Regions from separate parts of the Homo sapiens genome. Here region 1 is linked to region 2. Evidence: fine-mapped QTL for protein levels in blood plasma. A gene starts in region 2. The other region holds a variant in brackets. All regions are shown on one strand. Distances are between the middles of the regions. Region 1 overlaps PCDH9 (protocadherin 9). Region 2 holds the start of PCDH9 (protocadherin 9).

Region 1 (5,383 bases), 79 kb before region 2:
GTTCTGAATTTTGTTATATAGGTGCCCAGAGGCAAGTGGAAGCATTTTTATACAAACAAAGTAGATAAACAATGTAGGAAAGATGCTCTAATGGACTGTTTCTCTGCTCCCCTCATGTAGCCTACAGCATTTTTTTATTCTGCAAGTATTACAGTTCATCTGAAAAGACTTCCGAAATCATCATTTTCAGGCTTAACTTTCTTTTTTATTCAGTTTCTTATCAGCAGCTGAAAATAGGATGCTAGGATGCTTAAACTTTCTATCAGACCTTCATTTTTCAAATGAGAGATAATTTTCAGAAAAATAAAATGGTTTTATCTTTGCAATTATTCATATCTACTTAGGGTATTTTTAATAGCAGAGGTGAAAGTGGGGCAGGAGGAAATGTGAGAGGAAGTACACATCGCAGATATAAAGCTGGGAATGTGTATCTACCAGAATAGCAACAACATGCTGTTTGGTTACAATCTAAACAGTCAGGGCCCAGTCTTCAGCTCTCCTGTTCAGGCAGCCTGCAGTGTCCCTGGAGAGAGTCTACGCTTGCCTTACATTAAAGTGACCTCTTTGACTCATGTTCACAGCCGTGTTAATAAGCTTGAAAAAGGTGCCCTATCCAGTTATATTTTTTGAAAAACCAGAAGAAATAATAACTGAGACTGAGTACATTTGGAATAAGGCCAGGGAATTTGGGGACTGTCTTATAATTACTACCTTTTCCATAGCCAAAATTGTTTCTTTGTATTTCATGGACACATTTACAATGTCCACTGTTTATACATTCCCTCAATGAGTATCAGGAGAATGCCTTTGCAGATAAATTGCTAAGAAATAGCTTGGGTATGGGCCAGTTCTCTTTTTGTTTTTGGTATGTGACCTCACTGTCAAAGCATTCCATCCTTCCTCTCTTCCCACCCCCTATCCCAGTAAATGAGTATGCATTACATGCAGGATAAAACTATCATATCCTTAAACAAATGTCCTTTTCAAAAGTGTAATATAAAGCAGACCCAGAAAGTCGGCTGCTATAACGATTTCATGTTTTGCTGATCCCGGTCTTTTCTTCTGAAAGGCTTCTTAGTGGTCCCCAGTGAAAAGTTGAGATCAGCATTTAAATGCAGGTCTATCTTTTTAACATACTTTAAGTCCTCAGAATTCACTAAGTCTCAGTGGCTTTGAGAATTTATAAGCGTATCTAAGATGTTAAGGCTACCTCCATGTCTTTTTTTTTTTTCATCCTGCAAAATTACATTAATTGGAATTTGTATTTTTCTTCCCCTCTGTGATTTGAAGGAAATATACTACTGAATAAGATTTCTTCAAGACCATTTCTTTGTGTGAAGCAGCTTTCCCCAGACAGTTAGGGACCAATTATAGGAATACTTATAGTCTTTGAATTTTTACAGCTGATGTACACTGGTTCCTCTCCTAGGTAACAGTAACATGCACATGTGCAATGAGTCACAGGAAAGAAAAAAAAAAGAAAAAAGTAATTATGTTGTTTCTTGTTATATGCAATAACCAGCATTTGGTTAGAACACCCGTGCAAGTTTTAATTTTAAATGAGAAGATGAAGGCAAAAGAAGCCAACTTCTTTTTTTTAATTACCACTTTTCTGCATCAATCAACATATTCATTTAAATTTAAAACTTAGCATTTTATATTTCAGTCATGTTTTTCTTCGATGTCCTTTGAAGTCCTTATCTATGTTCTTTACACATGTCATAAAGACATTTTTATTAACCATTAAAAGCCTGAGAAAAAGCTGATTGAGGTTTGAATGTTTCATATTCTTAAAGGTTTCAGTCTACATGTTAAATGGCAAAAATATAGCCACTGAAAACTGTCCCAGGATGAATTTAACAAATAGACATTAATTTGATCTTTAAAAGATGTATTATATTAAGTTTTTGATTCCTATGATGGAAAACTATTATATGATTTTGCCAGTTCTAGGTAGGAATGGAATCATCCAATGAACAAACTTTTACTGCAAGGCTGCAACTACAGTAAGGCACCTATAGAGCAAAACTTACAAAGGTTTTTACCTTACCTTTAGGTTCATGCTCAAATTTGAGCTCTCAAGTTCCTGCTCTAACCTACTACATGGCACCATAGCCCTTATAGACCGACTACATGCCAATGATATTGTAGGTCTCTTGAAGAAATATTAAGATGAATAATTACATTTAAAAAATGATAAGATAGAAACTTGGCCTGCTAGAATTTGTGAGTCTTGAAAACTTTCCTATCAGTATGAAAACAGGTAGCATAATATAACAAAGACATGGGCTCCTGTTGCTGACGGCCTGAGCTGGAATTCTGCTTTACTTCCTATGCGTGTCATGTTGGATATGACAATTTCAATATTTCTAAGTCTCATTTTCTTTATGAATTCTTTATAGTCATAGTACCTACTTTAAAGGTGTGATGAGAATTCA[A/G]TAAGATATTTTAAGCAGTGCCCAGCACATTGTTAGGCTCTGATAAATATTTATTATTGTGATTATCATTATCATTGTATTTACAGGAAAGGAAGGAAACAAATCTGAACAAAACATCAACTTTCATACAAAAGAAAGGAACATTAAAGGGAAAATAAAACTGTAAATACTGCTAATGGTCACGAATTTTTATTTGATTTTTTATGATTACTAGTTATCCTAAGATCACAAAGGAATTACGATTTCAACTTCCATGAAGAAAAATTACGTTAAAGATTTTTGCTTTGTATAAAAAAAAACCCTAAGATTATTAACTTTAAAGCTAAATAATGGCAGTAGTAATAAAAATACATTTGTATGGCATTTGAGTTCTAAAAACTATGCTTTTAGCCGAACACTTTCATGCAAATTAGCATGTTTAATCGTTATGAACACCCCATATGGTATTTTTAATCCCCATTTTGCAAATAAAAAACTAAGACCCAAGGTTACAGCACTTCTTAGTGGTATTGATACTCACTTTTGAAGCCAAAATTTCAAAAATAAAAGTCTTTTCAGGTCATATGTAGGCAAGAATATTTGCAGTTTATATTTTAATAATAAAACATAATTTGAGTTTTATTTATTTTATTTTTATTTTTTTGATATGGAGTCTCACTCTGTCACTCAGGCTGACGTGCAGTGCTCCGTGCAACATCTGCCTCCCAGGTTCAAGTGATTATCCTGCCTCAACTTCCCAAGTAGCTGGGATAACAGGCATATGCCACCACGTTCAGCTAATTTTTAAAATATTTTTAGTAGAGATGGGGCTTCACCATGTTGGCCAGGCTGGCCTCGAACTCCCGACCTCAAGTGATCTACCTGCCTCAGCTTCCCGAAGTGATGGGATTACAGGCATGAGCCACTGTGCCTGGCCCATAATTTGAGTTTTAATCAATACAAAAAGCCCAAAGTGTTGGTTTCCATACAAGTCAGAAAAAATCAGTATTAATAGAGAGTATTAATTTTATTAAGCCACATTTTGACTGCATTAGTAGGTAAAAAGGATGGAAAACTAGGACATCTTAAACAAATGTTAATCAGAAATATAATCATTAGTTTTCATATTCATTTCAATGGCCCCAGGGTGTTCCCTCATTCAATCCGTTGGTTTTGCCCTAATAATAAGTATTTTAAGTCATGTGATTCTTAAACACAATACATCCAAAACATGTGCCAATAATTATATCCAGAAGTGAGAACAATAATTTCTAAATAACTAGAAAACCATTTGCAACTAACATAAACTTGTTTTAAATTTACCAATAAAACCACTGGCAAATAAAGTAACTTGTACTCGCCCTTTGTAAACACAGGTGTTAGTGGTGTTCCCTAATCTAATAGAACTCCAGGAAGACTGTATCTTTCCACTGCACTACTATTGGCAAGCACAGTTAGTCTTTAATCCCTTTTAATCCAACCTACATATACAACAAGATTAGCTTTCTTGTTTAACCAACTTTGTAAGTCTCACTGCCCAAGGCCTTCCAATTGCTTCCCACCATCCACTGCCTAAGTAAACCTTAGTTTAGTCTTAATCATAAGACTAGATTCAACATGCACCATATATGAATTATACTTAAAATACTGTTCCCTCTGCCCTCACTTATTTTAATCCAGAAAAATTCTCCATCTTTTTCAAAGTCCAGTGGAAGGCTCATCCTCTTCTTGAGGGTCTCTTTGGCCATTTTATTCAAAACTCATCATTTGATGAGTACCAATAGCTCCTTTTTTAAAAAAAAATCACATTCATGTGTTTTATCTCTGTACTATCTTGAAATAGGGCCATTTATTGTGATTTCTCTGCTACTAAAGTCAAACTGATAAGTAGGGATGGAATTGTTTCTTAACGTTTGTATCCCCCAATTTGTTCCTCTTTAGGGATATTAACGTTTAATGCAATGAAAGAACATGACCTTATTTCCTACAGCCTTTGCACATCTCTTCATGGGTTTCTGGTTGTGGGTGTCTGTGTCTGAGATGCAAAAAGCAGAATTGGGTTCTACTGGTAAACTCAGAGCTCCTACTTCTTTTATTGTTTGCCTGAAAAAAAATAGGCATAGTTTTGACTTAGGTAGGGGATCTAAGAGTACTGCATCATTCCCAAATCCAACACTGTTAGAGTTAGAAGATCCTGTATGATTCAAGCACCTGGTTTCACACAGTGACTAAGGATGGGGAATATATCCCTTCTACAAGCTGGCAAAGCTTTTGCTCTATACTTAGAGGAAGAAAAAAATTCATCTTTTCAATCTATCAAAACTGAGGCACATAATAATTGAGAGGAGAAACTTATCATTATGCTCAGGGACTTTATGCTTTTGAGGCCTCATAAAGGACTCAGGAAGTATCAGCCCTTGTATAGCTGCAGGCAACATCTCCACCCAATTCTAGGCCACACTCATTTTTAAGGCACCAAAGCTCAAATGCACTCAGGGTCCTTGCATCATCATTTTGCCTAAAGAGAGATAATTTTTTTTTTGTTACAAGACTATATGAATGAACTAAAAGACTCTTAAGGATACTTTCTCATCTCATAAAACTCTCATCCCAAGTTACATGAGATAAACTGAAATAGTATTTTACAAATTCCTCCAAATTGTATCTTCTTATAGCTGAAGAACTTACAAGACTTTTTGTGTCCTATTTGTTCCAAGAATTGTAAATTTTACATGAAATAAAAGCATAATCTGCCTTTTGGAAGTGAGAACATTCCATACACCCAGAAGAAACCTGTATGTTTTACTGTTGATAGGAAACGGAACTCTGCCAGGCAGTGAACTAATGAATTACAATTTGGCAGCGCTCCATGCCTGATACAATTTAGTTCAAATTTATGAAATCCACTGGTTCCAGAAATCCACTTGTGCCTAAGGCCTCTCTGTACAGCTCAGAGTAAAAAGCAT
Region 2 (5,379 bases):
CATAAAGGAATACAAGCACAAGCGTGTGCAAAGACTTAGGGTACCCCAGGTCACTTATGTTGACCACCAAACGATGCAATCCCACATCAGTAGGTGCTGGTTTTTCTTCCAGAGTAATGTTACCTGTTACTGGATCAATCCGGAATAAGCCTTTATTGTTTCCACTCACTATAGTATACTTTAGTTCAGCGTTCATTCCAGTGTCAACATCCACTGCAAAAACTTCTGCTACCACGGAGCCAGGAATGGCTGAGAGGGGCACCAACTTAAAGGAAGTATTAGACGGTGGAGAAATGACAACTGGGCTGTTGTCATTGACATCCATGACGTTGATAGTTACTTTTGCAGTAGAGGAACGAGGTGGTTGTCCTCCATCAGTGGCTTTGACATCAAAAGTGTAGGAACTCTGCTGCTCTCTATCAAATGAGACATTTGACTTTATGACTCCAGAATAGGGATCCAACACAAAATTATCATTGTCATTTAGAATGGAAAGAGTCACAGCTTTATTCTCTCCAGCATCTGCATCTGTCACTGTGATTACCCCCACAGTACTATACTTTGGCAGATTCTCAGACACAAAAAATTGAAAATGATTATGAGTAAACTTGGGGCTATTGTCATTCTCATCCAGAACAGTAACAATCACAGCCGCTTGGCTTTGGAGGGGAGGGGTCCCATTGTCCCTGGCAGTTACTGTAAAAATGAATCGTTCTTGTTCTTCTCTGTCAAATACTCTGGAGGCTGTCAAAACTCCTGTTTTTCGGTCCAGATCAAAGAAGGAGGCATTCGGTCCAAGCTGATAAACAATGTCTGCATTTTTCCCACTGTCTTCATCTGTGGCACTAATAGTTGTTAAGTATAACCCACGTCGGTTGTTTTCAGAAACTGACAGCTCAATTACAGGCTGGTTGAAAATTGGTGGGTTGTCATTTTCATCCTCAAGCTTAACCCTTACCAGGGCAGTCTGATTTAAACTGGGCTTCCCAGAATCAGAGGCAACAATTTTAAAGCTGAATTCTTTGGTGCCCTCATAGTCCAACAAAGAAGAGGTCTCTAACAAATATTGGTTGTCATATACCGCCTTCAAATGAAATGGGACCTCTCTTTCAATAAAACAGATCACTTTGCCATTCACATCTGTGTCCTTATCTGAAACTGTAATTAGGGCAATCTTTGTATTGACAGGATCTTTCTCAGATAAATACACGGTGCCATTGATGGGACTTATAATGTACCTGAGGTCTATATTAGGAGGGTTATCATTTACATCGGTGACATTGATGGTAACCGTTGCTCGAGCAGGAGTGGAGCTGCCGTCACTAGCCAGCACTGTCACTTTGTGAATGGCTGTCTCCTCTCTATCTAAGGACCTCTGAACTGTAATCAGCCCAGTAGTATTATTTAAAGCAAAGAGTCTTTTGGTTGCAGGGGCGACCTGGGCACCAAAAATGTACCGGATTTCAGCATTACTGCCTATATCTGCATCAGTGGCATGGAGCTGAATTACAGAGGTACCTACGGGAGCATTCTCTGGAATATGCACCTCCACTTGACCCTCTTTAAACACTGGCCTGTTGTCATTTACATCACTTACTGTGACCTGCAGTATGGCCGTACTGGATTTCTGTGGAGTGCCTCCATCCTCTACTTTGATTTTCATCACATAGGTATCTTTCTGTTCTCTATCCAAGTTTTGCTGAACAATCAGTTGTGGCCACTTCTCTCCCTCTGGAGTTTCCACGATATCCAGTCCAAAAACACTCTGCCCATTTAACAATTCATAATGCTGTACACCATTGAAGCCTGTGTCAGGATCTGTTGCTGATGGAATTGGAAAGCGGCTGTTGATCAAAGTGTTTTCTGGAATGGAAATATTGATGACAGGAGATGGAAACATGGGGGCATTATCATTGGTATCCTTGACAATTATTTTTATTTTGATCAGCCTGAAGAAATCATTGGGGAGGATCACCACCTCAAGTTCAAAGAAACACTCATTCTCCTCAGCATATGAGGCGCCAGCACAGAGTTTTTCTCTGTCTATTCTGTTGGAGGTTGTGAAAATTTCCCCAGTGCTGCTGGAAACTTTCACCAAAGGGGCATCCCCAGCTTTAGAAACCAGTCTGTAGACAAGGCTGGCGCTGGTCCCTGTGGCAGCATTGATGTGAGAAATGTTCAGATCCTTTGGTATGTTTCCTATGGGCACATTTTCAGGCAATTCCTCTCTAATAGTGTAAATAAGTTCTTGAGCTATTGCGGAATCCAGCCTTAAACAGGCAATCAGAGCAGCCAACAGGTAAAAATCCCTCAGGTCCATGATAATGTATTTATTTTCTTTTCCTGGATTTTAGGGTTTAAAGGTTTCCACTGAGGAATGATGCACAAATTGCAAGAGGAAGCGTGCATGGACTGGAGGATGCATTATATCTCATCACTTATTTGGAGACAGCCGCTGTCAACACAATTGTATAGACAATATTATTCTTCAGTAAATAAAAACACACCGTCACAAAATATCACCACACATTTTCCCCTGAACATTAGTAAACATGGCAGTTTGCTCTGCCACTGTTTGCAAGTTTACTCTGTGGAGAAAAACACTAAATATCTCCTGCTGGTTGCATTTGCCGGGAGAAAATAAAATTTTCTACTTTTGAATTAAGGACAGCTGCTATTTTTACCTATATTCACGCACGTTGTTTTTCAGAATACTGTTTAATTCAAAACATGCATTCTTGTTCTCCTCTTCCCCTCCCCCTGTCTCACCCTCCTCCTAGCCTCTAACCTACCTCCCTCAGTCTTTTCAGGTGCAAGTGAAAAACACTAAGTATTTAGCTACGGTTCCTGCTAATTGCTTTGTCACATGTCAAATGTGTTTTCTTCTCTGCCCCACTGAGTCACCTATCTTTTCTAAAAAGGCTATCTTTTTCTTTCCTCCCAGTTCTTCAACTGCCTTCTAATACAATCTTACTGGGAAACGAGCATCCGGACATGCCGCTGCAGCGGCATCAGAAGCAATAGTCACCGGCCTCTACACATCCTCATTGCCTAAAAGCACAACAACAAGACTTCAGATTTCTTGCCCACAGCTTGCTCTCCTTTCTCCATATTGACAAATTATCCTCATTAGGATTCATAAACACATTAAAACTTTTAAAAATGTATAATAATATAGGATTCATTTTCCTAGAGGTGGAAGAGAGTGCCGAGATATAAGTGAAACGCAGCTAACATTCCCATGTAACATCACAATATTTTCTACTGAACATAAAAGAGAAAAAAAATGCAATTTCTTAATCCTGATCTCTGGTTAGAATATTAGTAACATTTGCCACACATAAATACTGCAACCCAATCATGCAGGTAAAAAGGCTTCTGCTTAGATAACTGCAGTTTAAATGGGTGCAAGGCTCCAGGCAGCTACCTACTTGAGTAGGACTGGTCAGTTCTCAGGCTCTAATCTTATCTGCATTAGGCTGCACAGTAGCTGATGCCCGCGATTAGTTCCGGCAGAGTGATGCAGGTAGGGATGCAGATACAGCCGAGTAGGTGAGCTCTGCCCCAACCGTCTACCCAATTACAAGCATCTTTCGCCTACACTGAGGACACATCTAAACACAGAATTTACAATTGTGCATGCGAAACTTTACACTTACGTTAGTTGCCTCAACCTTTCCCCTTTCCCAGTATGCTGCAGTTAGGAATGATTTGTTCCAACACATAGAAAGCCATGCATCTGGTAGCACCAGTTTGGGGAGAAATCAGAAGCAGCAAAATGTTTCCTCCTTGTAAAATGTGTTGCTTCGGGCTGGCAAATTAGCAACTCCAGAGAACAAATTCACGGATTTGTCGTTAGTCATTCTCTCCACATTTCGTCTCTCTTACCCACTGGGTCTGGGTTCTTCTGGGCATTTAGCACACACAACACATAGTTGCACTTCTTCAGCTCAGGGATATTTTCCACAGCAGCATGCATACCATTTCCATCCGATGCCAATACTGCTTAAGTCTCTAACTTCTTGTAGGAAACGTCAGAGTTGCGGTGATGATGATTCTCTGACAGCTATCCGGGTGACAGTTGCCCGAAAAATTCCTAATCGGTTATCTCTTGCGTGCTTCAGAGACTCTGAGGCGCTCCTTTCCGTCTCGCGTGCTCTCCCTCTCTCCCTTCCCCTCTGCCCCTCTCTCCTTCTCCCTCTCCTCTCTCTGAACTGAATTTCTTGATATAACTCTCAATAAGCCCAGAGGGAGGGCGTGACTGCCCAGGCCCCGCCCCCGGGCTCTGATTGGCCTGCATCTTGCGGCGCGGGCGGCCGCAGCCCGGCGCGAGGGAGGGAGCGCGGAACAAGGCGCTGACTGTCTCCCAGCCTCCCCTCCTCCGCGCCCCCTCGGCAGCAGCGAAAACCCGGAAATCTGATCCTGGCCCCAGGAGAGCCGGGTTCCATGAGGTGCACTGAGCATGCTCTGCAGGGTCCGGCGTGGGAGGGACGCGCTGGCGCTCCCCAGGCCCGGGCGGAAGCGGCGCTCGCAGGCGCTGAAAGCGAGCGACCCTCTGAGCCCGGGTGGTCCGGCGGGCAAGGGCGGCGCGGGAGACCCGCAGGGCGCGGGCGCGGATCCGGGGAACCAGGGCCACCGCTGCGGGCGGATGGGGGTCACCGAGGCGGCTCGTCTCCAGGCGCACACTTCGCACATCTCTTTGCTAAGTGAAGGGGCCAAAATGCACAGATGGGGGAGTCTACCCAGGAACAGAGGCGCGAGACGTATAGCCACCCCTGGGTTGGGAGCACGAGCCAGCAGATCCCCGGAGCGCGTTAAACGGACAACATGCCCGGTGCTGCAAATAGAGGCTTTTGCTGGCAGGGACATTGGAAAGAAGGGCGGAGAGGGAGTACAGCGAAAGGTGGGGACCGCAGAATTTGGAATCTCTGCGGAGACCGGAAAGAAAATTAATCGGAGCACTTCCTACATGCAGAGCCACGGAAACTGCCTTGGAAAGAGAAAGTGGCAGCGTCTGGGTCCCCTCGGTCAGCCCGGGCCAGTCGGCTGCGCGTGCGAAGTCTCCTCTAGCGGAGCGGGACCGGCCGCGGCGGTGGATCGTGGCGGTCCCTGCACTTCTGCTCCAGCCGCGCCTGGAAACCTGAGCCCGGACTCGCGGCTGCTGCAAAACCCGCTTCCAGCCCACCTCACTGCGAACTTTGCTTCCGAGGGGCTGGAAGGAGTCCCAGGCAGCTGTTTCCCAAGCTGTGGAACACTTCCTTTCCCCTAGGCACTTTCTGCTGATTCCAACTTTCTTTCCTGTGATTTTCGTCTTTTCCCGTGCATTTCATTTCTCCGACTCCAGCTCTGTACTAAATCCTCACAAGTTTCTCGTTTTCA

What was found. A credible set is the group of variants that fine-mapping cannot tell apart. PIP is the chance, under the fine-mapping model, that this variant and not a neighbour inherited with it causes the effect. Protein levels are from the aptamer-based SomaScan assay of Sun 2018.
Region 1: its variant is the best candidate, but not a certain one, in a credible set for the plasma level of the PCDH9 protein (Sun 2018, PIP 0.69).

What each region holds. Positions count from the first base shown.
Region 1 is chr13:67,146,983-67,152,365 of GRCh38, forward strand. The region is part of intron 2 of PCDH9 (protocadherin 9); the gene reads right to left. Among named protein-coding and RNA genes, the nearest start is that of PCDH9, 81 kb to the right of the region's middle. The variant A/G (reference allele first, on the strand shown) is at 2,439.
Region 2 is chr13:67,226,121-67,231,499 of GRCh38, forward strand. PCDH9 (protocadherin 9) reads right to left here and starts at 4,216. Exons shown (of 5, transcript NM_203487.3): 1 at 3,660-4,216; 2 at 1-2,455. The coding sequence starts at 2,320. RefSeq lists a silencer at 4,487-4,626.